Linked DNA regions of Homo sapiens: regions 2, 3 and 4 are each reported to be linked to region 1. The links are microRNA targets in miRTarBase. Many come from high-throughput screens and were not tested one by one. Region 1 holds a microRNA gene; each other region holds the end of a gene's coding sequence.

The links. Region 1 holds the annotated microRNA hsa-miR-1267 (CCUGUUGAAGUGUAAUCCCCA, at 3,490-3,510, shown strand). A microRNA usually pairs through its seed, bases 2 to 8, with sites in the 3' UTR of a target mRNA and lowers its output. Matches are read on the target gene's strand: a 7mer-m8 pairs with bases 2 to 8, a 7mer-A1 pairs with bases 2 to 7 and ends in A, and an 8mer does both.
Region 2: miRTarBase lists IYD as a target of hsa-miR-1267. Seed matches in the 3' UTR shown: 7mer-A1 at 1,815-1,821, 7mer-A1 at 2,455-2,461 and 7mer-m8 at 6,596-6,602.
Region 3: miRTarBase lists CYYR1 as a target of hsa-miR-1267. Seed matches in the 3' UTR shown: 7mer-A1 at 5,034-5,040, 7mer-m8 at 4,974-4,980 and 7mer-A1 at 4,738-4,744.
Region 4: the mRNA of PTCD3 is a reported target of hsa-miR-1267. Seed matches in the 3' UTR shown: 7mer-A1 at 3,143-3,149.

What each region holds. Positions count from the first base shown.
Region 1 is chr13:107,527,604-107,534,726 of GRCh38, reverse strand. MIR1267 (microRNA 1267) reads left to right here and starts at 3,479; the gene lies at 3,479-3,556. All of the region lies in intron 1 of NALF1 (NALCN channel auxiliary factor 1), which reads left to right. It overlaps LOC112268110 (a long non-coding RNA gene), which reads left to right. Exons shown (of 3, transcript XR_002957493.2): 1 at 1-7,123.
Region 2 is chr6:150,397,207-150,404,329 of GRCh38, forward strand. IYD (iodotyrosine deiodinase) reads left to right here. Exons shown (of 5, transcript NM_203395.3): 5 at 849-7,123. The coding sequence ends at 1,031. Among named protein-coding and RNA genes, the nearest start is that of IYD, 32 kb to the left of the region's middle. RefSeq lists a silencer at 6,407-6,701.
Region 3 is chr21:26,462,757-26,469,879 of GRCh38, forward strand. CYYR1 (cysteine and tyrosine rich 1) reads right to left here. Exons shown (of 4, transcript NM_001320768.2): 4 at 3,460-5,878. The coding sequence ends at 5,745. All of the region lies in intron 1 of CYYR1-AS1 (CYYR1 antisense RNA 1), which reads left to right. The region is part of intron 1 of LOC107985474 (a long non-coding RNA gene); the gene reads left to right. Among named protein-coding and RNA genes, the nearest start is that of CYYR1-AS1, 60 kb to the left of the region's middle.
Region 4 is chr2:86,136,331-86,143,453 of GRCh38, forward strand. It overlaps PTCD3 (pentatricopeptide repeat domain 3), which reads left to right. Exons shown (of 24, transcript NM_017952.6): 22 at 191-232; 23 at 652-810; 24 at 1,139-5,827. The coding sequence ends at 1,229. Among named protein-coding and RNA genes, the nearest start is that of SNORD94, 4.0 kb to the left of the region's middle. RefSeq lists a silencer at 4,836-5,130.

The DNA.
Region 1 (7,123 bases):
AAATACAGTCAGCATCAGCACTGTACTTGCTTAACCCAGATCCCTGAGAGAGATGCCTGAGGTCTGCATGTTTTAACAAATTCCTCAGCTAAAATGTAGGAAATACTGGCTTATTTGTATATTATAAAATTAACATTCCAGGCTTAATACTTAAGTAATATGTTGATCTGTTCAGCAAACCACTGTGTCACACATTTACCTATGTAATAAACCTGCACATTCTGCATATGTACACCTGAACTTAATAAAAGATGGAAGAAAACAAAAAATAACATTAGTATTTCATATTAACTTTTGTCCTTATTGCTCCTCTTTTCCCCATCTCTCTCCTTTTGTTCTTTTTTTAACTGAATTACAAATAGTTTTTCTTAGAGGAAAATGTTAATATGCATCAAAATAAATATAAACATATTTTAGCAATTTTAAAATTGTTTTTAATTGGAAGATGAGGCAAAAATTCTGAAGTAAACATGTTTGTGGCTCTAAAAAGATCATACTTTCCAGAGTCATCTGAAGGGCTTGTGAAAATACATCTCTGGGCACCACGGCAGAGTTTCTGATTTCATAGGTCTGGGGAGGGCCCAGAACCTACGTATCTCACACACATTTCCAAGTGATGCTGATGCCACTGGGCCAATGACCACATTTTTATATCATTACCCTGGATTTCCCTCTCACGTTCCATTTCTCTCTGCTCTCTTCAGTCTCCCTCTCCCTTTTACAGGTAATTTTCCTCTTTGCAGGATATTTGGTCCCCTGGTTCTCCCCAAGTCATAATAGATCTTTTTGTCTCTCCCCCTCCCCATTTCCCATTAATGTTAACTCTATATTTTCAAACAGTTTGTAGAACTGATTTTACCTATGTTCAATGACAAAGACACTCCCTTAGAAGTATTGAGCTTTTCCTGAGACCTTAACGGAAGACATGATCCTGGATGGTGTCATGTTAGGCATCACAGACCCTCAACAAAAGACAGATTTGGGGGTGTTGCTTTGTTGGAGAGTGTGTTTTGTTTTGTTTTCTGAAAGATGGCCTTTGGAATACTTCCTCAAGTCCTTTCCTGGTAATTATGTGATTCACAGAATCTCTAATTTGAACAGTTATTAAAGAATATCTTCATTTGTTTGTGCTGCTGTAGCAAAATACCATACACTGTGTACTTTATAAAGAACAGAAATTTATTTTCTTACCATTCAAAAGGCAGGGAAGTCCAAGATCAAGGTGCAGGCATGTTCGGTTGTTGGATGAGGGCTGCCTCCTCTGTAGGGGAGGAAGGCTGTGTCCTCTCATGGCAGAGACCTGAAAGCCCTTTTCAGAAGGGCCTTATCCATTTATGGTGAAGGAGCCTCATGACCTAATCACCTTCCAGGGGCCCTGTCTTTCAATGCTGTCACTGTGGTGATTTGGTTTTAACATGAATTTTGGAGGATCTGACATTCAAACCATAGCAAAGAACCTACACTCACGTAATTATAGCACTCTGCATTTCAAATGTGTAAATTTCTATAAATGTTTCTAACAGTCACTTTACAAACAAAATATGTAAAACAGAGAAAAAAGAAAGGGGCAAAACTGAGCCTCATTAAAAGTTATGGTTATAACTCTCTTTTCGTGGGGATATTAATTTTAGTAGAATGAGTTAAATAAAAGTTTAAGTCAAAAAGAGAGGCAACAGCTGCCTCCAGTCAAAGTGTCTGGTTTCTAAATGATGTTTTAAATTTCCAGCTTAGCATGTATTCTTAATTTTTATATCATTTTTAATATGTTAATGGCTACTGTTTTTAGGTTGTTTTCTTAACAGTTCTGCAACTACCTTTAAGATGTTTTTTGAAGTCTAGGTGGCAATATTTTGTCTTCAGTTAATATAATTGCAATATTACGTTAGAAACTAGCACAAAATTATATTCCTGAATAATCTCTAAATTGCTAACTTTTCAGGGATTTATATTTTCTGAAAATTAACATTCTTGAGAATTTCATTAATGTCCCAGGCAAATCACATAAATGGACCAAACACATGAGACAGAAAAATTAAAGTTGAAATGAGGTCTATAAGAGATTCTCAAATATTTGAAATACCTCAAGTCAAAAGATATGAGTATATAAAAACTTCATGTAATATAATTTGATTAATTTTCCAGTAGTTTATGGAGTATGATTTTGGACTATACCACACTGTAAGCCTTAGGTTTTGTAATAACCTGAACTCTTGATATTTAAGAAGATAAATTTCATGTTTGTTGATGAGGAAGCACACACCACTAGAATGAACGCTTATTGGAAAAGCATTGTAACACTGAGAAAACACTAGCAATGAATGATTTTTCTTCATAGAGAAAGGAAGCAGCAAAACAGTCCATAATGAGAGCTCAGCCAAGGGAAACAAAAATCATTGAAATTTCTTAATAGATTCTTTAATACTGATTATTAGATAGAAGCATGTTTTACACTGTGGGAATCCATAAGATTTCAAAGAAAAAGATGCTGTTTTACTTTAAAATGTTGACCTTGAAAGGCTGTAGCTTTTTAAACTCTACTTTTGTTCACTTTCTTTCTCTTTCATTTTGTTCTTGGTTGTCTGCAAGAAACTTGGAGGAGAACCTAGCACATCAAAGGATTTAGTATACAAAAGGGTAGCTTGTAAGTCAGTTAAGAAACAAAGCATTTTCTATTAAATGCTTCTAGGATAACTCACTATTTGAGAGAAAATTTTCAAGTTAGGTAAGTATGCAAATTCAGCTGCGTTATGAACTTGATTGTGAAAAAGCCATGTTAGTCATCTAGAAAACAAATACGTAAATAGAAGATTGCAAAATGGCAGAGAAGTTTATAAGCATAAAATTAATTTTTAAAAATTCTAAGGGGAGTATCAGTAGATAATACTTCACATGACACAAAACTTTGGCATATCTAACACCATCATAAAAAAGATGCAAATGAGAAGCTGGAAAAATTACTTGCAACACGTATTCCAGTCAAACAACAACAAAAGAAGATGAGCATACTGAGATAAAAGTGGAAAAAAATACAGACAGACAACTCATAAAATGAAAAAAATACAAACATTTAATGTGAGTTTAACTAAAATGTACTGGTTTTGATGTTGAATAAACTGGGAAAATTAATAAGATAATATTGATGATTAGTGTCACTGATTATATTAGACCATTCTTGCATTGCTATAAAGGAATACCTGTGATTGCATAATTTATAAAACAAAGAGGTTTAATTGGCTCATGATTCTTCAGGCTTTATAGGACCCATGGTTCTGGCATCTGCTCGGCTTCTGGGGAGTCCTCAGGAGCTTACAATCATGGTGAAAGGTGAAGAAGGAACAGTCTTTGTCACGTGACCAGAGCCAGAACAAAAGAGAGAGAGTTGGGGGTAAGGTGCCATACACTCAGAAGAAGAGCTCACTCATCACCAAGAGGATGGCCCAAGCTATTCATGAGGGATCTGCCTCCGTGATCCAAATACCTCCCAAATCTCCTGTTGAAGTGTAATCCCCACCTCCAGCATTGGGGATTACATTTCAACATGAGATTTGGATGAGGACAAATATCCGGACTCCATCAGTGGTCAAGAACTTTTTATTTCTGGAGAGCTATGTTAAAATATATGTTAAAAGTCCATCCTCTTTAGTTCTGTAATTCCTAATATAGGAATGCATCCTAATAAAATATCTCAGATGTATATATATATATATATGTGAATGACAATGTTCAGCAGAGTTCTTTTTTAGGGTACAAAGACTATCCCTTTAACAGTTTTTACATAACTAAAATGTTTCCACTAAAAATCACAATAAAAATCGTCAGTGTTCTTTTCACATTTCAGGCAATCCTGCTGGTTTTCATATTATTTTTAAAACTTTATAAGGAGAATGGTGAAAATAGTTCATATATAACTTAGATGCTTGTTCTTTCTATATTGTCAGCTGCTTTTCACAAATGATTAGCCTCAGCTCTGGACAGATTTCAGCTTACATCAATATGATGTAAGTGATACTATGTTTTCTCTATAGCTGTGGTGATTTGCAATATTATTTTTGCCTCCTATTTGTCATGTAGTACCTGCTGGGCTGCCTCAACAGATAGTATTTGTACAATGGCATTTTTGTGTGGAATGAGTCCATCTTCTGCATACATCCACATGTTATGAATATACTAAAATGATCACAGGTCATACATAAAAATCTTGTCATTTAAAAAAAATCTTACAAATATTAAATTTAGAGGAATGTCTTAGATTTTGCTTCAGTCTATATGGATATACTTCATTCATTCAGCAAGTAATTTGCTGAGCACTTACTATGTATGATGTTTTCATGGCTCTGGGGATATAGTAGATGATCAAGTAGCTTAAAAGTATCCATGCTAGTGGTGGATATAGGTAGTAAATAGGAAACAAATATAAAAATAATTATGGATTGGGATATATGCTATGAAGTAAACAAAGGCAGACTATCTTGCTAGGATGGAGGTTTTGTCTTTGGACAGAGCTTTTAGGCCTCCTTAAGTAGATGACTGAGCTATAAAGCATAAGACTGAGCCTGCCTCATTAATAGGCAGGAGAGAGTGTCCCAGGGTGGAGAGAGAACAAGGTAAAGGTGCCCAGGTGGGGATTTGAGGGTTGGAGCTAAGGGAGCCCATATTGCTGAATAAGAGTGAGCTGTGGAAAGAAGGCATGAGTTAGCTATAGAACCCTTGCTTCTTATTCTTACTCTTGGGTATTAACAGTCATCTTCCTCTTGAAAGCTGAGAATAGCAGTTTAGGCAGATTGTGAGTTTGGCTTTGGTTCTTTATGGAAAGATACCTTGGAGTCCCATGGCCACTAGATGAAGGGATGTCAAGCATTGTAACTAGCCAACTGCATCCCTACCATGGATAGTTTCCAACATTCTGTTGCTCTTAGAAAGTCCTGAGACATCATCCTTTCCTTCAGGTGATGCCCGTTCCTCTCTCACATGGCAGTCAGAGCTTACGGAAGATCTAAAAAAAGGAAAAAGATGTAATTAATTCATCACATCTTCCAATCATCACACACACATTGCAATGGGAGCCAAGCTGGTGAATGGTTGGCTACTGTCCTGCGGGGCCATCTTGGAAGAGCTGGAAGTCAGCCTTGCTGGCCTTTTATCTGGAAGTCCAGATTAGACCACTGAATTGCACACATCTAGGACATATAGTGTGAATATTGAGGGTTGTATGAAAAGTCAAAAGCAGAAAGTTTGAGGAACATCTAAGATTACCAAATAATTTGCTGTTTCATTAATGTACTTTGCTTGCTTAAATCTCCGTTTTCAAATTCCCTTTCTGCCATCTGGGGCATTCTCTTTCCTGACTGCCTACCCAATTGCTACTCATCTTTTTTATCTGAAGGCCTGGATCGGTGAAGTGATTCTGAAAGTCATACAACTTGTTAATACCAGAGCTATGGTCTCGTTTCTCTGCTCTTGAATAATTATTCACTATGCAGGTATTCACCCATTCCTTCACTTGCTGAGAGTCAGCCAGCCATATGCTAAGCACTGAGAGAACTAACATGGTTAAGACAAAGTCTCCAGCATTAGGCTTCTCTCTCTCTGGTGGGAAGATCTTGTTAAGCAAATGAAATAGAACATAAATGAATGGATAAAGCTCTGGTCAGGGTGCCGTGGGAAAACAGAGGTGAGACTGAGTAACACTGTAGAAAAGGTCCAAAATTCATACTTTTATTGGAAAATAAGCAGGGTTAGCCAGGAAGAGGAACACGTTTCATGGGCAGAGGCCATGTACCTAACAGTTCATGATAGAAAGAATTGTGTCCTTTTCTGTTTATTAAAAGATTTCATTGTGCTTTTGTTTCTTTGGTTATTTGGTAGCAGTATTTGGTCTCTTTGGTTCTTTAACTGATTGTGCTGGGTCCTTTACTGTACGTATTAATGAATCGTCGTGATGACAAGCAATCTTTTCAATGACTCTTCTACCTACATCAGAGACTCCTGACATCAGCTTGTATCAGGAGGCTGTCTCATCCACTGTCCTTCTCTGATGGGGTAATTCCTCAGGACCTACTATGTTATCTATGTTGACCCAAATTTATTCTCAGTTCTGGCTTGCGCACCTGGAGAACAGGCCTTTATCCCTTGATGCCTGCCGGATGCTTGACACCTTTGAAATTAGGCAATTCCCCTCGAGGCTTGTTTTAGAGAGAGGGTTTTGGAGCCTGGGATAATTTGAATAATTTCATAATGTAAAAAAGAAACAAAAGTTTATGTGACCCAGTCAGTGAATTCCTCTTTAAAGGGACATGTTTTAATCTAAAAGAACGTATGAATCCATTAAAGGTTACAAGTAACTGATATGTCACACAGTTACTTGTTAGAATATATTTATATAGGCTTTTGTTTTAACCAGAATATATAGTTTTAACTTACTTATTATGACATAACGTTTATTATGACAAAGTTTCTGTTATTTACATGAACATATTGGCCCCATTGTGGAACTATTTTTTTTTCTAATAGGTCTAACATGTTAATTTTAAAAATTGCTATTACCAACATGCAGATTATGGTATTACTGTCCAGATTAATTGCAGAGACCATTTTCAGTTATCTTTACCAAATAATTGACTATTTAAGCATGTTTATGTTTATATATACTCGCATTTTTATAGCAGTGGGTGTTCTTTCAGTTATATTCCTAATGACAATTCATTTTGTCAGATATGTTTATATTACTTTGTAGTAAACTAACTTCTTTTGAAATACAAGAATTCTTTTTAAATAAGAAAATTCAGTTAGGCTTTGTATTAGTTTGTTTTCACACTGCTGATAAAGACATACCTGAGACTGGGTAATTTAAAAGGAAAAAGAGGTTTAAGGGACTCACAGTTCCACGTGGCTGGGGAAGCTTCACAATCATGGCAGAAGCAGAAAGGTACGTCTTACATGGCAGCAGACAAGAGAGAATGAGACCCAAGCGAAAGAAGTTTCTCCTTATGTAATCATCAGATCTTGTGAGACTTATTCACTCCCAGGAGAACAGTATGGAGAAACCACCCCCATGATTCAATTATCTCCCACCGGGTGGCTCAGACAACACAGAATTGTGGGAGCTACAATTCAATATGTGCTT
Region 2 (7,123 bases), not on the chromosome of region 1:
AATATTAGAGTTATTGATAACAAATCATAGATTCCAGGCAGATCACTGGAGTTCAGGAAAGAATATTTAGCAGGAAAATTGGCCAGGTATGGTGGCTCACACTTGTAATCCCAGCACTTTGGGAGGCTGAGACGGGCAGATCACTTAAGCTCAGGAGTTTGAGACAAACCTGGGCAATATGGCAAAACCCCATCTCTATAAATAAATACAAAATATAGCCAGGCATGGTGGTGCATGCCTATAGTCTCAGCTACTTAGCAGACTGAGGTGGGAGGATGGCTTGAGCCCAGGAGGCAGAGGTTACAGTGAGCCGAGATCATGCCACTGCACTCCAGCCTGGGTGATAGAGCCATACTTTGTCTCAAAAAAAAAACAAAAAACAAAACCGAATATGTATATTTAGTAGGAAAATTATGTCGCATTTGGGCTAGGACACTGCTTTGGTGGACTCTCTTATCATTTGGTTCTTGTACCAGGACACAGACCAACCCCTTAGCTAAAAGGAACTCCCTGTTGTTTTTGCCTTTCCTCTACTGTAGTTGGATTCCTACAGTATTTTTCTGTAAAATAACCATTCCTATTTCTTAAGCATCAATGAAAAATAATAGTATTTTTCTTCTTCCAAAAGCTTGCCACTGCTTGGTTAAAAGAAGGGAGGGGGTGGGGAGATTGATGGGGGCAGGGAGGTTCACGATGCCATTACTTGAGCTGGCAGCCTCTTTGCTGCCCAACTTCAGGGAAATGATAGGAAGAGCAGGTATAATCAGGACAAGAAGGTCCCCAGGTTAGAGGGAGAGCAGTCATTCTGCCTGCTGACTTTAAAATGCTTTCTTGTCCTCTTATTTTAGAATGCAGGTCTGGTGACTGTCACTACCACTCCTCTCAACTGTGGCCCTCGACTGAGGGTGCTCCTGGGCCGCCCCGCACATGAAAAGCTGCTGATGCTGCTCCCCGTGGGGTACCCCAGCAAGGAGGCCACGGTGCCTGACCTCAAGCGCAAACCTCTGGACCAGATCATGGTGACAGTGTAGGCAGGGCCCCCCAAGGGAGTGGCAGGGAGATGGCGCCCCTGCTTTTCCCTGAGCCTCTCGCCTGCTCCTCTTGGGTCTCTTGGCTGCTCTTTCTCCAGGTGTCAGGTCCCCTCATTGCTCTTCTCAGGTGGCCACACTATGTCAAGAAGCCTCTCCACACTCTGTGGCACTTCCAGTCCCATAAATCCTGTTTCTTATCCACTTTGGAAATGCATGAACACTTTACAAAGAACATGCCCGGGTTTTTACATTTTAAAAGTTATTCTAGACAATCACTATTGGCTTTTTTCTTTTATTTTTAAAAAACTCACATAGAGGAGACAATCAGAAATTTACCATAGTCCCAAGAATTCAGCTACATGATGACTCGAATTTAAATTTAGATTAATCAAATGGTCTCCTGTTCTCTGATTTCTGGTGGCTTTTAGACACTAATTTTTGAGAACTACTTTTTTTTTTTTACCAAACTTCAGGGACACTCTGCTAGTTTTGAATAAGTAACCATCAAAGTTACTAAAACATGGCCAGGCGCAGTGGCTCATGCCTGTAATCCCAGCACTTTGGGAGGCCGAGGTGGGCAGATTGCCTGAGCTCAAGAGTTCGAGACCAGCCTGGCCAACATGGTGAAACCCCATCTCTACTAAAAATACAAAAAATTAGCTGGGCATGCACTTGTAATTCCAGCTACTCAGGAGGCTGAGGCAAGAGAACTGCTTGAATCCGGGAGGTAGAGATTGCAGTGAGTCAAGATGCTGAGATGCCACCACTGCACTCCAGCCTGGGCAACAGAGCGAGAACCTGTCTCAAAAAAAACAAAAACAAAGTTACTAAAATGTCACCTTCACAGAACAGGACAGGGTACCCTTGGGTCGCACGGGCCTGGCTGGCATGTAAACGGTCAGTTGCACTGCCTAGTGGTTTGGTAGATCTGACTTGTAAGCAGTTCATAGAAGCTGCTCAATACTCAAGAATCTTGCAAGACAGTTATTAAACATTCATAGCTTGAAATTGCCCATGGTGGGAGAGTTTACATCACAACCACTACAAATCAGCACTTGCTTTCTTCTTCTTAAAGAGAGCTGCTTACCATACATAGCACCCACAGTGTCTCCCTTCTCTTCTACCCCAACCCCTGAAACACACTGACCCCTATTCTCCAGATGACAGCACAGCTGTTTGGGACTGATAGGGTCACAGTTGCCAGGTTGGGAATGCTAGATGTAGTCTTCACCCATCACCTTCTGTCGTCCTCCCAGGGGTGTCATATTTACAGAGGCAAACTCTTACAGCTTGGATGATTTCTCATCAAGCAACTCTACTCACCTCTTTTTCCCCTTTCCCTGTGCGTTTCTTCTTCTTGTCCTCATTTTCCTTGAGAAAACTCTCTCTATAAAAAATTTCCATAGAGTATGTGGCTGATAAACAACAGAAATTTGTTTCTCACAGTTCTGGAGGCTGGAAGTCCAAGGTCGGGGTGCCCTCATGGTCAGGTGCTGGTGAGGACCCTGATCTGGGTTGCAGACTGCTGACTTCTTATTGTGTCCTCGTGGTAGAAAGAGGGTTAGAGCCTCTGGCATGCCTTTTATAAGGGTACTAATCCCATCATGAGGCCCCGTCCTTATGACCTCATCACCTCCCAAAGGACCCCCTCCTAATACCATCACATTGGGGGTTAGGGTTTCAACATATGAATTGCGGGGGACACAAACATTCCGTCCATGGCACCTACTTCATAGGGTTTGGCATGCTGCTCGGTACATGGTTAACATTCATAAATGGTGGGGGCCCTTACTGTGGTAGAAACCATTGTCACTGCAAGGCAGCCCTGCTTGGGATTCAGGTGAACAAATGTAACGTGGGTGGGTGAGGGACTCCCTCCTCTTCAGAGAAGCCCTCCTGTGGCTCAGGGGCAGCTGCAGGGCCAGATGGAGTTGGCCTGCAGGGAGTCAGCCTTACCCCATCAGAGACCAACTTGAAAGATTTTTTTCTCTGTGTAGTTCGTGTTATCAATCTGATCTGCAGCCAGGTTATTTACTTCTGAAGCATTGGAGTTATCGATTGCCATTGCCCCATGGTTCTCACTCTTTGCAGGCACTCTTCAAATTTTTATTTTAAAAATTATAATGCAAACATCTGGCCATCACCTTAACCAAGTGACAAAGTCCTAGCACACCATTAATGGTAGGATAACTGACATTAAGTGTTCCTGCTGGGATGAATTATGAAGTATTCCTTCCAAAGATGTCAATGGAAACTAATCGAGTCTTACACCTAATTTTCAGTTTACAGTAAATACAGAGGATAAAGAAGTTAATGGCATGGTGGAATAACCAAAATGTGTATCATTCTACAAAAAAATAGGCCTGGACTATTTAAGGAGTGAGTGTCACTGTGGGAAGAATAAGAGGGGGACTGTCTTGTCCTTGCTACTCAAAGAGTGGTCCTGGGCCTGTATCATCATTGGGACCACCTGGGCGCTTGTTAGAATCAAAGACTCTCAGGCCTCACCTAGACATCCAGAATCAAAATCTGCATTTTAACAAGATGCCCAGGTGATCTGCATGCCTGTTAAAGTCTGAGCTCTGTTGCAGATAACCAGAGACCCAACAACCAAAGGCAAAGCGTAAGCCTTGATTGGATTTTGGTTTAGGAAAAATCTCATAGGTATAAAAGACAACTGGGAATGTTGAATGTGGATCTGGTGGTAGGTGATATTGTTAGTGATGTGAGTGATGCCTGCTGAAGTACTGAGAGATGAAGCATCATATTGACAACTTACTCCAGGAAAAAAGGTGTGTGTATAGGTGTGTGTTTGGAGAGTGTGAGCGAGAACTAACATGGTAAAATGTTAGGTGGAGCATATACAGTTCTCATTATACTCTTATTTTAAATTTATATTTGAACACAGTCAAATCTGAATGGAAATACATTTAAATAAGCATTTCTTTCAGTCATATAAGTAATTTGCCTAAAAATGCCCTCTAAGTCCATCATTAGGTTAAGCGATTTACTGAAGGTGCAGATATCATGCTTATTTCATTGGGTTGTTTTGGAATGTCCCCCACTTGGAGAGTTTGAGGAATGGAAATGAGAATCGGAGGAGAAATAAGGCCAGAGGCTCACATTGCTTGCAGGGAACCGACTGAGTAATGAAGAAGAGGAAGGAAGCCCTTGGAAGGAACGTAAAATCCATTTCAGCCTGCCGCCCCTTGGAATGGAGGGTCTTCTAGGGACCAGAAACACCAGACACTTCTTCTGCCCCAAGCACACCCCACACTAATTTCTGCTGCAGCATCACGATCAGGGCAAATCAGCACAGCCCCCCAGCCATCAGTGGTGTCTAGAAAAGTAAGGATAATTTTCTTCCTTCTCACTGCAGCCCCAAGCTCTTATTAACCTTCTTTTATGTGTTCATTAAATGCAGTCATGTGACAACTGTGTTCAAAGTTAGAAATAGTGGTCGGGGAGGCTTATAGATCCTCTTGCTGTTCTGAGGCCTTAAAACCAAAAAAATAATGGAATGATTGCATCACTGCGAGGAAGTATACTTAATTAAGAAAGTTGAAAATGGTTTGTGTCTTACTAATAGGACTCACCTGAAGACTCTACTTTGCCAAGAGGGAATTTTTAACTCAAAGTTGTGTCAGCCAGCACGGGGTAGAGCCATGGTCCTCATACTTGCTGGCATCCCTCATCTGGTGGTCTGTTAAAGCACAGATTGCTGGGCCGCACCCTCAGGGTGTGTGATTGTGTGATTCAGTATTGCTGGGTGGTGCCCAAATGCTCCAGTTCTAATGTATTCCCAGGTGTTGCTGATGCTGGTGATTGGGTACCACATTTTGAGAACCATGGGGCATTGGCAATCAACAAATGCAATGCTTGTGACTTGACGTGATAAAAGTTCATTTATTGGGCAGGCAAAGTCCTCTGCAGGCCTGGAAACCCTCCGAGACAATTACTTGCATGGGGTAACCCAGTAATACTGTGGGATGCAACTTCTAGGGCATGGCTGCCTCCTTCCTAGAGGCAGCAGGGGGAGAAAACACTGGAAGAGGTCACCCCAACAATTCCATCGTACCTTGGCCTAGGAGTGACCTCCTCAGTCTCACAACCCTTTGGCTAGAACTAGTCATGTGACCTCACAGGAGGTGGAGCAGTGTCGTCAATGTTATCATCCCCCTGCACCTGCAAGGAAGGAGGCCCAGATGTGTGTAGGTGCTGGATGTCTCTTCCCCAAAACATATAACTCTGGATTTGGAAAACAAAACTGGATATAACAGAAAAGAAAAGGAGGGGAGAAGGAAAGTTGAAGAAATTGGTGAAATCAGAATAGGACAGTGAAAGGCATAAAGATTTTCTTCTGAAACGCTAAGATCGGTTGATATTTGTCTAATACAGCTTTAAATAGAGTATCACTTTGGGCCAAAGAAAATTGATATAAACATACATAAAGTGGAACTAAGATTGACTTCTTCCTAGACATCTCTGCCTCTGTCCACAAAATGGAAACTTCCATCAAGGAGTACTGGAGGACAGTTCAGTATTTCTTCTTATTTGCTCCTCCCTATGAAAGGAAGAGTGACTTCTCTGCTGCATGATATTGGGGGTAAATAGTTATTGCACATTTGCTCAAACCCCAGCAAAGTGCACCCCATTTTAAGCCAAATTTACAAACTTACAAAGATGATCCACCAATAGTTTTCTCTATTTACTTTATTCTTGCTCTGTCACCCAGGCTAGAATGCAGTGGTGTGATTATAGCTCACTGCAGCCTCCAACTTCTGGACTCAAGTGATCCTCCCACCTTAGCTTCCCAGGTAGCTGGGATACAGGTGCACGCCACCACACCCAGGCTAGTTTTTCTAAATATTGGAGTTCCCAAAGAGTATTCAAACTGATGTGATATTTTAAAAGACATTTTGTAAGCATCTTTTAGGAATATCAGTAAGTGGAAGAAAAACACATAGTTATCAGTGGATATTATGCCAGAGAGGCATGAGAAATATAATTTTATTTTGCTAGGTATCAGCAGAGTGCCCTCTTATAATTTGTGTGAAATGGAAACAAAGGTAACATCGTGTTTTCAATTCACACATATATACAAGTAATGAGAGGTCCAGAAGAAATGTGGCTTCAGCTCTGCTGCTACTGTGCCTCCCTTCTCCTGCCCCACTCAGCCCACAAAATAGGCTGGACACTCAAAAAACGTTGCGTTTATCTACCTTTTAGAGAGGGTGAATAGCAGAGAACTGGAGGTGGGAATGGTAAGGAACTCCCAGCAGGGTAGTGGAGGGAATGGGCTGACGCATCTAAGGCTGATGCCAGGTCTGCTCCCTATCTGGGTGGCCTCAGCAAATGACGTCCAGCACATCCAGGGGCAGGCTCAAGGGAGAACAGCCCCCAAAGCTAAGATCCTGCCAAGCTAAATACAGTAGTTCTAATGAAATGTGAGAGGCTATAATCCCATTTGGGAAATTCCTAAAAAGTCATGAGGCAGGGGATTGGTTTATGTTATTATCATGACCTGAGAGTCATGGCTCAGAGCCAAATGTTCAGGATTGAATTCAACAGCATTTAAATGTCTTTAGAGCAGGATGGAAATATGTTAGCAATGCCTGCAGAGTGCCAAGTAAACGCAAAAGCCAATGAGATCATAAAGGAAGTTGTTAGCTAACCTAGGTGGAGTCGCCAACTTCCTTCTACTCTAATAATTAAAAATAAAAATAATACTTGGGAGGTAACTGGAATAAAGGTTCTAAAATCAAAACCCTCTGAAGGGTGAAAACTGGGAGCCTCCTGTTCCCATAGTAACCACAGCACTCAGGGCACTGTCTCCCAGCGCTGGAGTACTGTCTTATGACCAGAGATCCTAAGCAACCTCTGCTCATCTGAGTTGTCCACCATATTGTGGGCATGAGTCCTTGACAATAGTAAATAGCACCTCTGTTCCCTTATTGGGTAAATGATTTTCCAACTCTGGGAATGTGTAGAATTCATTATGGAAATAATGCAATAATTCAAATCCATAATATTGATACTTTCATGTTAAGTTTAGGACTAATCTTGTGTATGCTCCTTAAGTGATTTGAATC
Region 3 (7,123 bases), not on the chromosome of region 1:
CAGCTACTGGGGAGACTGAGGTGGGAGGATCATTTGAGCCCAGGAGTTGAGGCTGCAGTGAGTCATGATCATTTCCCTGCACTCTAGCCTAGGTGGCAGAATGAAACCCTGTCTCTGAAGAAAGAACAAACAACAATTAAAAAAGAAATGACAGGTGATACACACTCAAAAGCTATTCATGACTGGGTTAGAAAAAGGAGAACAGAGACTGGGCACGGTGACTCACGTCTGTAATCCCAGCCTCTGGGAGGCCGAAGCAGTTACATCACCTGAGGGTCAGGAGTTTGAGACCAGTCTGGCCAAGATGGTGAAACCCCATCTCTACTAAAAATACAAAAATTAGCCGGGTGTGGTGGCTCGCGCCTGTAATCTCAGCTACTCGGGAGCCTGGGGCAGGAGAATTGCTTGAACCCCAGAGGTGGAGGTTGCAGTGAGCTGAGATTGTGGCATTGCACTCCAGCCTGGCCAACAAGAGCAAAACTCCATAAAAAAAAAAAAAAAAAGTGAGAGCAGAGCAGAAATAGAAATCAAAGTCTAAATTTTTTTAAAAAACAATTTCTCCTTCATGCTTCCAGAGAAGGCAAATATTCCTAACACATGTTCCCCCAGTTCCAACCATTTCCTTGGATTGGATGTTTATTTTTAGGGAAGGCATTCAGGATTAGCTTAGGTAGCAACTTGATCCACTGAACACTCATCTGGGAACTTGTCTTGGAATTATTTTCTTGATGAAGATTAAATATCTAGGAACAGAGTTGAAACAAAGGTTAGAACTGGGACTATTTTAAGACTCGTCCATAAAGGTATGTGGTGTATGTGCTGTACTTCATTCCCTGCCTAATACGATGGGCTTTAGTGCAGCTCATAAATGAAGTTCATGAGAAACACAAGCCTTGTGTGTATCTTTTCAGTATTTCTTAGGAATGTAGCACTTATCTAGTTAATGTGGTCCTTGAATGTTGCCAGCTCCATTCTGCTCCTGTTGGTTCAATAAAAGCAATTTGATCACAGCCAAGCATGGCTTGGGATTCTTTCAGCTGTTGAGTTGGTACATTCTTATTAGAGGGAAGGTATTATCTTCTACATTGCCTAAACTCTAAATAATCAACTTAAGGAGAGTAAGATAAAATATCTTTGCTATGGTACACCAACTACTAAGATGGCCCCCAAAGCTCTCTGCCTCTTGGTTTCTGTGTCCTTGTGTAATTCCCTCCTCTTTTATGTGAGATGAACTTAGTGTCCTGATTCTAAAGAACAGGTTATGGCAAATGTGATGGGATATCACTTCCAATATTGGATTTCGTAAGTCTGTGACTTCTGTCTTCCTAGCACTCTCTTCCACTCCATGGCTCTTCTTGCTTGCTCTGGGGGAGCAAGCTGACACATTTAAAGTTGTCCTACAGAGAGGCCCATATGCCAAGGAATTGAGGGTGGTTTCTGGCCAATAGCTAGTGAGAAAATGAAGCTGGCACAAAAGCCTCGGAGGGACTGAATCTCGTCAATGACCATGCATGGGAGTGAGCTTGGAATCAGATACTTTCTCAGTTGTACATTGAGATGACAGCAGCCTGTGACAGTCCCTGAGCCAGAAGACCCAGCTAAGCCACCCTCAGATTCCTGATCCATAGAAACTGAGATAATACATGTTTCAAGCCACTAAGTTTTGAGTTAAATTTGTTACACAGCAATGGATAACAAATGCACCTGTTTATAGAAGTGGTGAGGCTTCGGAGTGGGGCATAAAGGAAAGAGAATATGTATATTCAGTTGCAACTATCAGAGTCACCAACCCAGGTAGGATCTTTGTAACAGATGTTCTACATATATTGTTTATAATCATTGCAACCACGTGGCAAGGATGGTGTTATTCATATATTTTGAATGAAACTGAGGTTATGGAAATGTTGTTATTTGGCTCCGTACATGTAGTTAGAAGATGACAGAGATGAGAGGGGAAACAAAGTCTCCCTTACTCTGAAGCCTTGGTTCTGTCCCCTGCATTAGAGGGATGTTAGAGGCCTGAGTGGGGTTAAGTAGGCTGGAAATCAGAATCACCTGTGGGTTGCTTTATAGTTAATCATGTCACTTTCCTTTTCTGGAGGTCCTGACAATGTTTATACTGAACCACACTACACAGTACAGTTGCACCAAAGAGTTTTGCTCTTGCACAAGTTCAGCCATATCCCATGCAGCTTGGCCCCAAATCAGAGAATAAAAACTATGCATTTCAGATAGGTTTTGATTGAGAATATGGTAGTTCTTGGATGCCTCTGTGGTGATTAACAAGGTGACCATGTGACTTTGGCATTCTGGTGTTAGGTTGTTTTAATTAAGTGAAAAATTAAAACAATAGTACCCAGAGCTCCACTATTTGATGAGCTTAATATACAATCTTATGTGTCCCAGTCCCTACTTTACCTACAACCAAAAGTTGGCAAAATGAGTTTGGTTAAACAAGGACAAGTTGGAAGTAGAGTGGATGTATGATGAGTGCTGCCGTCATTTGGTGGTGGGAACAAGATTATGAAAAAACAGAAGGGTAGCCTACAGCCCTGCACCTTAGGAAGATTAGGTAGCCCCACATGCTCCTGTAGTGGCTTCTGAAGCTGGGTAGGCAGCTGCAGAATTGATTAGACTCTGAGAACAGGCTGTGGCTCTGTTTCACCAGCTCTAACATCAGGTCTAAGGTCTCTCTCCTATCATCAGCCCTTCAGCTCTTGCAACAGCTTTCCTGCCCATGGCTCTGGAGAGGGCCAGATTAGCCTCTCGCTGCTCATGGTTCTCATGCAAGTTATTGTCTTGCTTCCATGGGAATGGACTCTCCACACAAATAAGTGAAAGACATCACAATTAGCTGACAAAGTCCATAGTTTCTCCTGGAGGAGATTGGAGTGGTCTCTTTTTCAATGACTTCCTGCTATCTCACTGCGTTTTTGCATAGATTTCTCTAGAGTGGCACTACCCAATAACGTAGGTAGCCCCTAGCCACATGAGGCTATGCAGCATTTGCAATGGGGTTAATGAGACAGATGAAGTAAATTTTTCATCTAATTTCATTTCAATTAATTTAAACTTAAATGACCATATGTAGCTGATGATTGCTGTGTTGGATAATATAGTTCTAGAGGTTGTTCTCATTATATTGTTGTTTTGTTAATTTATTTTGGGCTAATATTTATTGGACGTTTTCTATGTGCCAGGCACTATACTTAGAGTTTTGTATATATTCATCCAGTTTTTGCAGAATGCGATGAGACTGATAATATTATTTACATTTTCCAGAGCAGAAAGTTGAATCTCAGAGATGAAGTAGCCTGCTTCAAATCACACAGGCAGGAGACAGGATTCAAAATAAAGTCTGTCTGGCTCCAGCCCTGTGTTTCCTGTACAGAAGAATGAGGCAAAGTCAGCAGAAATAGAGGGTGAAAAAAATGGACACAAGACAATGAAAATATAATCTGTGTTATAATAGGTTCTTTCACTTTATTGCTTATTGTAAACACTTTGGCCATAGCAAATGTTAGTTTTTAAATAACCGTAATTCAAAACTTTCACATCCTATACTATTTTTCCCCAAGAAGCATCATCTATGAAAACAATCAGTGAACTCCAACAGTCTATACTGGTAATGTGCACATTGATGCTATTATGACACTTAATACAAATAGTAAAAATACTCATCTATTGTAGGCTTATGGGTTTGTAAAATGCCTTAAGGGAGGCCATAAACAACTCAAAGAAGAGATGGTGTGGACTGAACTGGCTTCTATTTGGGGAAAATTTGCAGAATATAGGAGGTACGCAATAAATGTTTATTGATGGTGAAGATGAGAAAACCCTATTTCTGCTGATCTTTCCTTTCCGTTTTCCTTAAAGAATATAAGGTATATTTGTATTCAGCATTCTCAGAATCATCACAGAAACCCTGGCACTTTGAGAGTCTTAGCCACAGTGTAATTGGGTCTGACCACACGCAGAAGAAAAATAAATTAAAGCATATGTACTATTAAAATTGCACTGAAAACTTTATGTAAGTCAGGGAGCCCCTCACCAGAACAGGCTGAAACTCTTGAATGCTTTGCATCCTCATATATAAGAAAATCATCAGTGCTTAAAGATCAAGGAACTCATTCAAAACAAATTCAGCCTTTGGACCTTACTGGCAGGTAGGTTATATTTCAGTCAGATCAATATCTTTCTAATATAGGTATTTGAAAGTAATATATGCTACTTATAATAATGATATAGTAAGCTTCTTATCTGCAAGTACAGGTACTATAACTTACACCTTAAAATGCTTTGTTTGATTGTTTCATTCAGCAAAATTCTTGGCACTGTTTTGGGATTTCACTGAATTTTGATGATGATATTGGATTAAGCATTTTAGATTTAATTGTAAAATGACACAAAAATCTAATCATCTATTTCCAATGTTCAATATACAATTTTTATAAATACATGAAACAATTCATATAAAAATATAAATGTTAAGGTCACTCACAGCAAAATATGGCACATTAGAATTATTTATTAAATGCTTTATACATATAAAGGTAGGCACTTCATAAAATTTGCATTTTGGTAAAAGGCAACAATTTGATGTCAGTATCTTAATTGTGTCATTAACTTTTTTAAGAGAACAGATTATCAAAATTTTACGAAGAAGAAAAAAATAATAGTTTTAAGGAAATCTACAGAAGGGAATCTGAACTTCATTTCCCACTTTATTTTTGCGAGTCTGTTGTGTATCTTCATGGTCAAGTTCTGAGATTTTTGCTCCCTGACCTAAAATCCTGTGGGAATAATTGATTTCTCATCTTTTACTTGGAAGTGAAGTGTCTGCTACCTGTGGAACTTGATACAATTTTTTTTTTCTCCCCACAGTTAGAATAACCTTTATTCTGATCCACTATAAAGCCAGATGATTTTTAGGTGGCAGTAGCTGGCATTGAAGAGTTCTTGGCTTCAAGCGGCTGTTGAGTCTTTTTGGTCTTGTTTTAACTCCCTAATTAAATAAATAAGATCCAACTCTTTCTGTTGTATTCACTCCTGGACATATAGAAATTCACTTCACACCCACCTAAAATACGAGCAGAACTTCTGAGGCCCAATGAACCCATCTACTATTTGATTTTGTTATCCCTTCTGGAGCGTGTCTCTACCAAGAGCTTCACAAAGCAATCTAGTCATTGCTCTTTCTTGTACTAAAACCAGAGTACCCGTCCTGTAACTTCCATCAGGACCTCAAACAGTGCTAGGCACATAGTAAACTCTTAGGCACTCAAAATACATTTATTGATGAATGAAAGAATGAACAATTCTAGTTCTGACTTTTAAAGCTATATAGAATAAAGTTGCTTCCTTGTGTGGGCCAAATCATTCTCCCATCCTACTTAGATCTTCTTTTTTTCCAGGATCAATACTGAAACTTTCTTCACCTAGCCCTTAAACAACATGATTATCAGATATTTTGTCAATTACATTACTCTTCCCTGAATGTGCTTAGGTGGATCAGCAGATCTCTTAAAATGTGGTTCCATAGAACCAAACATTAATACTCCAGATGGGGTCAGCTTTGAGCAGAGTAGAAATCCTATATCTCCTAGCAGGGATATTCCACCTGACACATTATCTGACCCCAAAAAGTATTCCTTGGAGCAATTCTTTCCTGCCTGTTTCTGAGTAGAGGCATTTTATTCCAGGCAAGATCGCCCATTGGCACATGTTCTGTTCTGGGAGATAGATTATTTCCTTGCGTTTCCAGGATAAGGAGGGGGTGGAGAACGCTGTGCTGGACCCTGTGGGGTGGGGGAGTATGGAGGAGGCAAGTCTGCACAGTATTCCATCTCGTGGTCGTGACCGTAGGGTGGTGGTCCTGCTGAAAAAGAAGGGGAAGAGAACATCAAGGAGTTAGCAAATATTTGCATTTCTACTGTGTTGAAGCCACTGGGCTAGATACTTTGGGAGGGGACATAAATTGTGGCTGCAAAAATCTTAGTTTTATTAGGTCAGGACCACATATGTATGAAAGGGTAAGTGCTCTAAAATGTGGTATCATGGGTCAAAGTGTTAAGAACTGGTTGTTTAGAGAAAGTTTCTTGAAAATATGATGCTGAAGTGGCAGAAAGAGAAGGTGAGGGACAATTCAGGTTGATCAAAAGCACTGAAGCGGGAGAGCCCTTCATCTCAAGCAAAAGTACATGAAAGGGAGAATGGGAAAAGACAATGAGGAGTGCGGTTATATCACCATGGTGGGCTCTGAATGCAATGTAGAATGTATAACATGTAGCTATCAGAGATTCTTTGAACATGGTAGTGAATATGCTTTGAGAAAACCACTCTCAGCAGTCAACAGAGGCAGAGGTAGATAAAAGAAAAGCTGCAACAATGTAATGGCATATGTGAGGGATGATAAGGGACTCATGACAGTGAGGGAAAAACATTCTAACAGTCCTTGAGCAACCAAGTCTTTAGGTGATGACTGGGTGTGTGGAGAAAGAGAGGAGAAAGTGAAAGAAGGGGTTGAGGTATTAGGTACCAAGTACAGGACTCCTATAATTGGAGGGGGGTGGAACCATTACAGAAATATGAAGAAGACAAAAAAGGAGGACAAGTAGGTTAGGAAATGAAGATGAAACATTTAATTTTCTGAATCTTATATGAAAAATTTTCTTTATTTTGTTACTGTACCATATGTCAGTGTTTTAAGAAAGTTTTTAAATTTTAAATAATTTTATTTTTTTGAATTGACAAATAATAATTGTACATATTCATGGGGTACAGAGTGATGTTTTGATATGCATAATGTATAATAATCAAATCAGGGCAACTGGCATACCCATCATCTCAAACATTTGTCATTTCTTTATGCTGGGAACATTTAGTATCCTCCTTCTACCCATTTGAAACTATATATTATTGTTGACTATAGTCATCCAGTGGTATAGAACACTGGAACTTATTCCTCCTATCTAGCTGTAATTTTATATCCTTTAATAAATTTCTCCCTATCCATCCTTTTTCCTACCCTTCTCAGCCTCTAGTATCCTCTGTTCTACCTTTTAATATACTTTATGATGACTATACATAAAAGTCTATTTTGTAGTGGTTTCAGTTCCTTTCT
Region 4 (7,123 bases), not on the chromosome of region 1:
GCACCTGCGGTGATTCTCATGTACACACAGGGCTGGGAGCTAGTAGAGCCCACAGATGTGTGTCTTTGGGAGCTTACAGTATAGTTAAGAAAAGGGCATTTAGTCTCTGATTTCAGAGAGAAGACAGCTATAGTGTCTGATTGCCTTGTTTTTCTAATAGTATTCATAATCTTTTTCCTTTCTTGAGCAGGAAAATGTTGGGGCTTTTCAGGAAGCATAATAAGATTCCTAGGTAAGTTGAAATCAGCCAGCTCTCTTTGGGTACAGCCTGGAAGTAGCCACATTTGGAATTTCTTCACCAGCCTTAGCCACCACATTTGGGCACTCTTCTGTTAGGCAAGCATACCGTCAACTCCCTACTATCCAGGGCATCCTGAGGCAAGCAGTTTTTTATCTGTGTTGACGGATCATCATACATTGGGGCTACATTGAATAGATCATCATGAAGTCATACTGAATGAATGTTGATAATCCATTTGGCCCTTTAGACTTTCTAACCTCACTGGAAACAAGTAAAAATAAATGTTAGACTTCATCTTTGTCTCCAGAAATACTGTTGGGAATTCTGTTACTGAACTTACACTGGATCTTGCCTATAAATGTTTTACTGAAGGGGCTGGAGAAAGTTCACACTTTGCCTTTCTTTTACAGAAGTGAGTTGCTGAATGAGCTTATGGACAGTGCAAAAGTGTCTAACAGCCCTTCCCAGGCCATTGAAGTAGTAGAGCTGGCAAGTGCCTTCAGCTTACCTATTTGTGAGGGCCTCACCCAGAGAGTAATGAGTGATTTTGCAATCAACCAGGAACAAAAGTAAGTGGTCACCATGAAGCATAGTTTGTAAAATGGAGACCTTTCATCCATCTGCCCATTCAAAATGTTCATAGCTTTCTATCCCTTCTATTTCCTTTCAAAAAGTCAGAATGTAGTAATTTAATGACTATTTCATTTGTCATGCAAGTCAGGAAAGCCTATAGATTTGACTGTTAGAAGCTTTTTGTTTCTAATATAGTTTAATGCAACTGCAGGGTCCCTTTTTCTGATTTCAAAACTGACAGGCTATAGGTGAGTGTCAGAGACACCGAGAACCCCAGCACCCAGTTGAATTGCAGTGTAATCCTCCATTTTCTTTTCTTAACAGGGAAGCCCTAAGTAATCTAACTGCATTGACCAGTGACAGTGATACTGACAGCAGCAGTGACAGCGACAGTGACACCAGTGAAGGCAAATGAAAGTGGAGATTCAGGAGCAGCAATGGGTCTCACCATAGCTGCTGGAATCACACCTGAGAACTGAGATATACCAATATTTAACATTGTTACAAAGAAGAAAAGATACAGATTTGGTGAATTTGTTACTGTGAGGTACAGTCAGTACACAGCTGACTTATGTAGATTTAAGCTGCTAATATGCTACTTAACCATCTATTAATGCACCATTAAAGGCTTAGCATTTAAGTAGCAACATTGCGGTTTTCAGACACATGGTGAGGTCCATGGCTCTTGTCATCAGGATAAGCCTGCACACCTAGAGTGTCGGTGAGCTGACCTCACGATGCTGTCCTCGTGCGATTGCCCTCTCCTGCTGCTGGACTTCTGCCTTTGTTGGCCTGATGTGCTGCTGTGATGCTGGTCCTTCATCTTAGGTGTTCATGCAGTTCTAACACAGTTGGGGTTGGGTCAATAGTTTCCCAATTTCAGGATATTTCGATGTCAGAAATAACGCATCTTAGGAATGACTAAACAAGATAATGGCAGTTTAGGCTGCACAACTGGTAAAATGACTGTAGATAAATGTTGTAATTAGTGTACACGTTTGTATTTTTGTTAATATAGCCGCTGCCATAGTTTTCTAACTTGAACAGCCATGAATGTTTCATGTCTCCCTTTTTTTTTGTCTATAGCTGTTACCTATTTTAGTGGTTGAAATGAGAGCTAGTGATGACAGAAGGATGTGGAATGTCTTCTTGACATCATTGTGTATTGCTGGTAATCAAGTTGGTAACGACTACTTCTAGCAGCTCTTACCACTATGACTTAAGTGGTCCTGGAAGGCAGTAAGTGGAGGTTTGCAGCATTCCTGCCTTCATGAGGGCTTCTACCACTGACCACTTTGCACGTACCTGGCTCCCAGATTTACTTAGGTACCCCACGAGTTGTCCACATAAGCAGCTTCATCTTTACCTTGCCAGAGTTGACAATTATGGGATACTCTAGTCTACTTATACTTGTGTTCCCATCTGTCTGCCATCCTCTGAAGGCCGGGACCCAGTCATACATCCTTAGAAACCAAAGTATGGTTTTTGTTTTCTCTTGGAATGTCAGGTCTTAAGGCATTTAATTGAGGGACAAAAAAAAAAAAAGCCGATATAGTAGCTAGCTACTTAAGCATCCATGGGTATTGCTCCATATCAAAGCAGATTTGCAGGACAGAGAGAGTAAATTAGCCTTCAGTCTTGGTTTACAGCTTCCAAGGAGAGCCTTGGCCACCTGAAATGTTAACTCGGTCCCTTCCTGTCTCTAGTTCATCAGCACCTGCAGATGCCTGACTCTTGTTAGCCTTACTATTCAATACAGTCCTTAGATTCACGGTATGCCTCTTCCTATCCAGGCACCTATTCTGAATCACCATGTTGCTCTGCAGCTAGAGTTGATAGGAGAAAATCCATTTGGGTAGATGGCCTATGAATTTGTAGTAGACTTTCAAAATGAGTGATTTGTTAGCTTGGTACTTTTAAGTTTGTGGTACAGATCCTCCAAACCCATACTCTGAGCAATTAACTGCCTTGAACATAGAGAAAAATTAAGGCCTCACAGGATGAGTCTCCATTCTCTGTAAATGCTTATTTTATCATAGTCTTTAGCCTCTACTATGAGTAAAATGTTCTCTTCGGCCGGGTGTGGTGACTCACACCTGTAACCTCAGCACTTTGGGAGGCAGAGGTGGGAGGATCACTTAGGTCCAGGAGTTCGAGACTAGCCTGGGCAACATAGTGAGACACCGGATCTACAAAAAAATAAAAAGCCAGACTGGTGGTATGTATCTGTGTCCCAGCTAATTGGGAGGGTGAGTTGGGAGGATTGTTTGAGCCTAGGAGAGGGAGGTTGCAGTGAGCCGTGATTGCACCACTGCACTCCAGCCTGGGCAACAGAGCAAGACCCTGTCTTGGAGAAACCAGAATTTTGGAAGAGCAAATGGGGCTGAGTGCAGTGGCTCATGCCTGTAATCCCAGCACTTAGGGTGCCAATGTGGATTACCTGAGCCCAGGAGTTTGAGACCAGCCTGGGTAACAGTGAGACCCCCCTCCCTACAAAAGATTTTAATAATTAGTTGGGCGTAGTGGTGCATGCCTGTAATCCCAGCTACTCTGGAGACAGGTGGAGGGGATTGCTTGAGCCTGGGAAGCTGAGGCTGCAGTAGCCATGACTGCACCACTGCATTCCAGCCTGGTTGACAGAGTGACCCTTGTCTCCAAGAAAAAAAAAAAGCAAATGGGATTAAGGACTCATGGAATGGGAAGGGGAAGGGGAGTCTTACTATATGTGGAATAAACTTGCTCAGTGTTGCCACAGAGTTACATTACCAATGTGTAGAAGTCAGAAACTAGACTTCTAGTTTGGTTCAACATTTGAGGGTTGTTTTATAGCCATCAAAGTATTCAAGAGGTTGGATGGCACTCAAAAGATTCTACATGTCTAGAATCAAACTCAAATCTGGCACGTAGGTGCTTCTTAGTAAATGCTTAATGAATGCCACCAACTCTGCAAAGTATTCATTGATTTTGAGACCTTAGTCATGTTGCTACTAAAAGTAGGGCATATGACCGCCTAAGAAACAGAACTTCGAGAAGTCCTAACGTAACCACAGTAAAGCAGACTCCCCTTTCAGCAACCTCAAAGCAAAAAAAAAAAAAAAAAAACCAGTTAGCTGCTATATAAACACTATACCAAGCACTAGGCTTAGAGGAAAAGATGTCAGATTGTACTGTCACTGGCTATGTACCCATATTCTCTAAGACAGGGTAGCATTTGTCTTTCAAACTGCAGGGTTTGAAATCAGTTTTTGTGGGTGATTGCAATTTTTTAATGAAATGCATTAGAACATCTAAGCACGTCACCTACAGTTTTGTGATGGTGCATTTTTGCATTGCAGTATAGATCTGTGCATAGATATATGCATTAAGTGTAGCAAATCGTGATGTAAATTTTTTACTGCTGGTCATGGTCAAAAAGTAAGATACGCTAGGAAATTGAGTCACTAGGAGCATGGATGTATAAGGCAGGTTTTATACAACCATTTAGATTCAACATTAATGGTAGAGTGGCATTTTACCAAAAAAATGGGTGTATTTGATTTGGGTGCTGTAAGGCAATTTGCTAGGACATGGGATAATCAGATTACACAAAATCTAGGCAGTGAACAAGTCTTCATCCTGGCCCAGGAAATAGCCTATTAAAAAATGCTGTCCAGGCCAGGCACAGTGGCTCACACCTGTAATCCCAGGACTTCGGGAGGCTGAGGCTGGAGGATTGCTTGAGTTCAAGACCAGCCTGAGCAACACAGTGAAAACCCATCTCAAAAAAAAAAAAAAAAAACCAAAAAAACTGTCCAGCTGTGGACTTTCAGGATTCAGGACTGCTGGGGATCAAGCCCAAGGATGTTTTTCAGAGCTCTGTGATTTAAGATGCTCGAAAAGAGTGTCCAAGAGGAGTAAAGGTCATGACAGAATTTACTCCCAGGACAATCTAAGTTCTGCCACAAGTACCCGTGGTGTCTGTTCCCACAACAATGGCCCTTTCACAAGCTCTTGCCTCACAACCCCTGCAGAAGTCCTTCAACAAAACTAATAATAGACTAGTGAAACCTACTCCTCACATGGGTAAGAGTTGCAGTGGGCAGGTGACCCTCCTCCCTGCCCCCATCCTTTGCTTCCTCAAGCTCCCTGCCAACCTCTGGATACATCAATGGGAAGGAAACCAGGGAAGCATAGACCTATAGTACAACAGGGGTGTAGTGACCACTGGACCTGATGAAGCGAATCTGCCTGAAATTTAATACGCCTTTTTATTTCCCTTCTGTGTTAAATCAAATGATCTGTTCTGCACTGAGCCAAGCAAGTTACTTTTAAAACTGGTGGCACCACTCATTTGGGACTTGGAGACTGCTTTTATCCAGAACCTGTTAAGAGAACAGGGGATTTAAATACAAAGGAATATGAAGGTGGTGTGCCTTAAAGACAGTCTAAAATTAGGTTTTAGTTTGTTACATTATTTTGAAATATTAAACATGAAAATGTTAAATCAGGATGTGTGAGTTTTAAGATGTTGAACACTGTCCTACATCAGTGAGGAGGGAGGCAATAAAGTAATTTCAGAGTAAAACAGATTGAGGATGAAACCAAGACAGAAGTGATGATTTGGCTTTTTATGATTTTTGCTGTGGAAATGGCAGTCGTGTGACTTTTCACTTGCAGTTTAAATGAAAGGGTGAAGAGAAGCCTACCTGCCCTAATGGCTCAGGGCTATATCCACCTCCCGGATAACCCTGGCCCTTGGGACTCCATCATCTCCTTGAAGTAGCACTGAGAATCCAAGAAGAGGCTCCGCTGCTTTTTGCACATGTTACTGAGTTACATCTCAGGAAGATTTTTAAGCACGAGGAAGGAAAATACAGGCCTGGCCAAGCAGGGTCCCCTTTTCGGTATCATCTTTGTTCCTAATAAGCAATCAAGGGGGGTGGGTGTGTTGGCTGGTAAAGGAACTACTAAGATTCAGAAGCTTGTAGTCTTCATTATTTTGTTTTACAGGTTAAAATAAACCACTTGACTGGGCACGGTGGCTCACACCTGTAATCCCAGCACTTTGGGAGGCCGGGGTGGGCAGATCACAAAGTCGGGAGTTCGAGACGAGCCTGGCCAACACAGTGAAACCCCATCTCTACTAAAAATACAAAAAAATTAGCCGGGCATGGTGGTGGGCACCTGTAATCCCAGCTACTCGGGAGGCTGAGGCAGGAGAATGGCTTGAACCTGGGAGGCAGAGGTTGCAGTGGGCAGAGATTGCGCCACTGCACTCCAGCCCAGGCGACAGTGCGAGACTCTGTCTCAAAAAAGAATAATAATAATAAATAAACCACTCAGTATTGCTGCTTCTAAGTTCAGACAGATAATCACATCTGAAGGAAGTTATTTCAGGGCTCCAAGAGAAACTTAGATTTTCTTATAACCTATAATATTTTACATATACAAGTCGAATGGAAATTATAAGCATTTCTAATATGACAAATAGGGAAGTTTAGCTTTACAAGTAATGTATTTTGCAATTTTGTGCCATTCGAAAAAGGAAGACTGAATTTAGAACAGTCCTATTATCTCCTAATAAAAACTTAGTATCCTCTAGGTAGGTGCACAGAGTGCCTCTGCCTTTGAGATGACGGGCATTAATCTCAGGAAGGAACACAAAGCATGTGTTCCAATCAGAAACTAAATATATTTTGTTGAATTAAGTAAATCCACTTAGGAGGGAATATAAGGACTATTGACAACATTAACACAAGCCAAAGGTGGACCAATATATCCCAAAATCAAAGGACAAGGCCAGTGCCATACACCTACAGATGCAGAAGCTGCCCCTTTTGTGATTCCAGATGTGTTGCCCAGATAAAAGTGCCTCCTCAATTTCTTTGTGAACACACAATCCCCAACAAACAGTTGTAATTTTGAAGAAAGTTGACATTTTTATGTAGAGATGGTGGTCTTCATGGAGTAAAAGAATTTGTTAGTGCTTATGCAATATGACAGTTGTACTAATCTTTAGAAAGATGAACTGAGAAAGTTCTCTGGGTTTTATAGCAATCTACATCAAATACACAACAAAACTATTTAATCTCTTCATTAAGATTCCAGGCTCCCCATCCCCCCACTTTGAAGGGATTCACAGCCCAGGTACTAGAAAGAACTAAGCTCCATTACCAGTGTTTTAGAACTGTCAGCTGTGACCCATAGAGGGCTGCTGAATTAACTTGTGGGTAGAGACCAACATTTTAACAAGTCACTAGAACGATATATCCCCAATTATAAATACATGTGGCACTTTGGCTTGTATATTACTCTTTTGAGTCTGAGCAG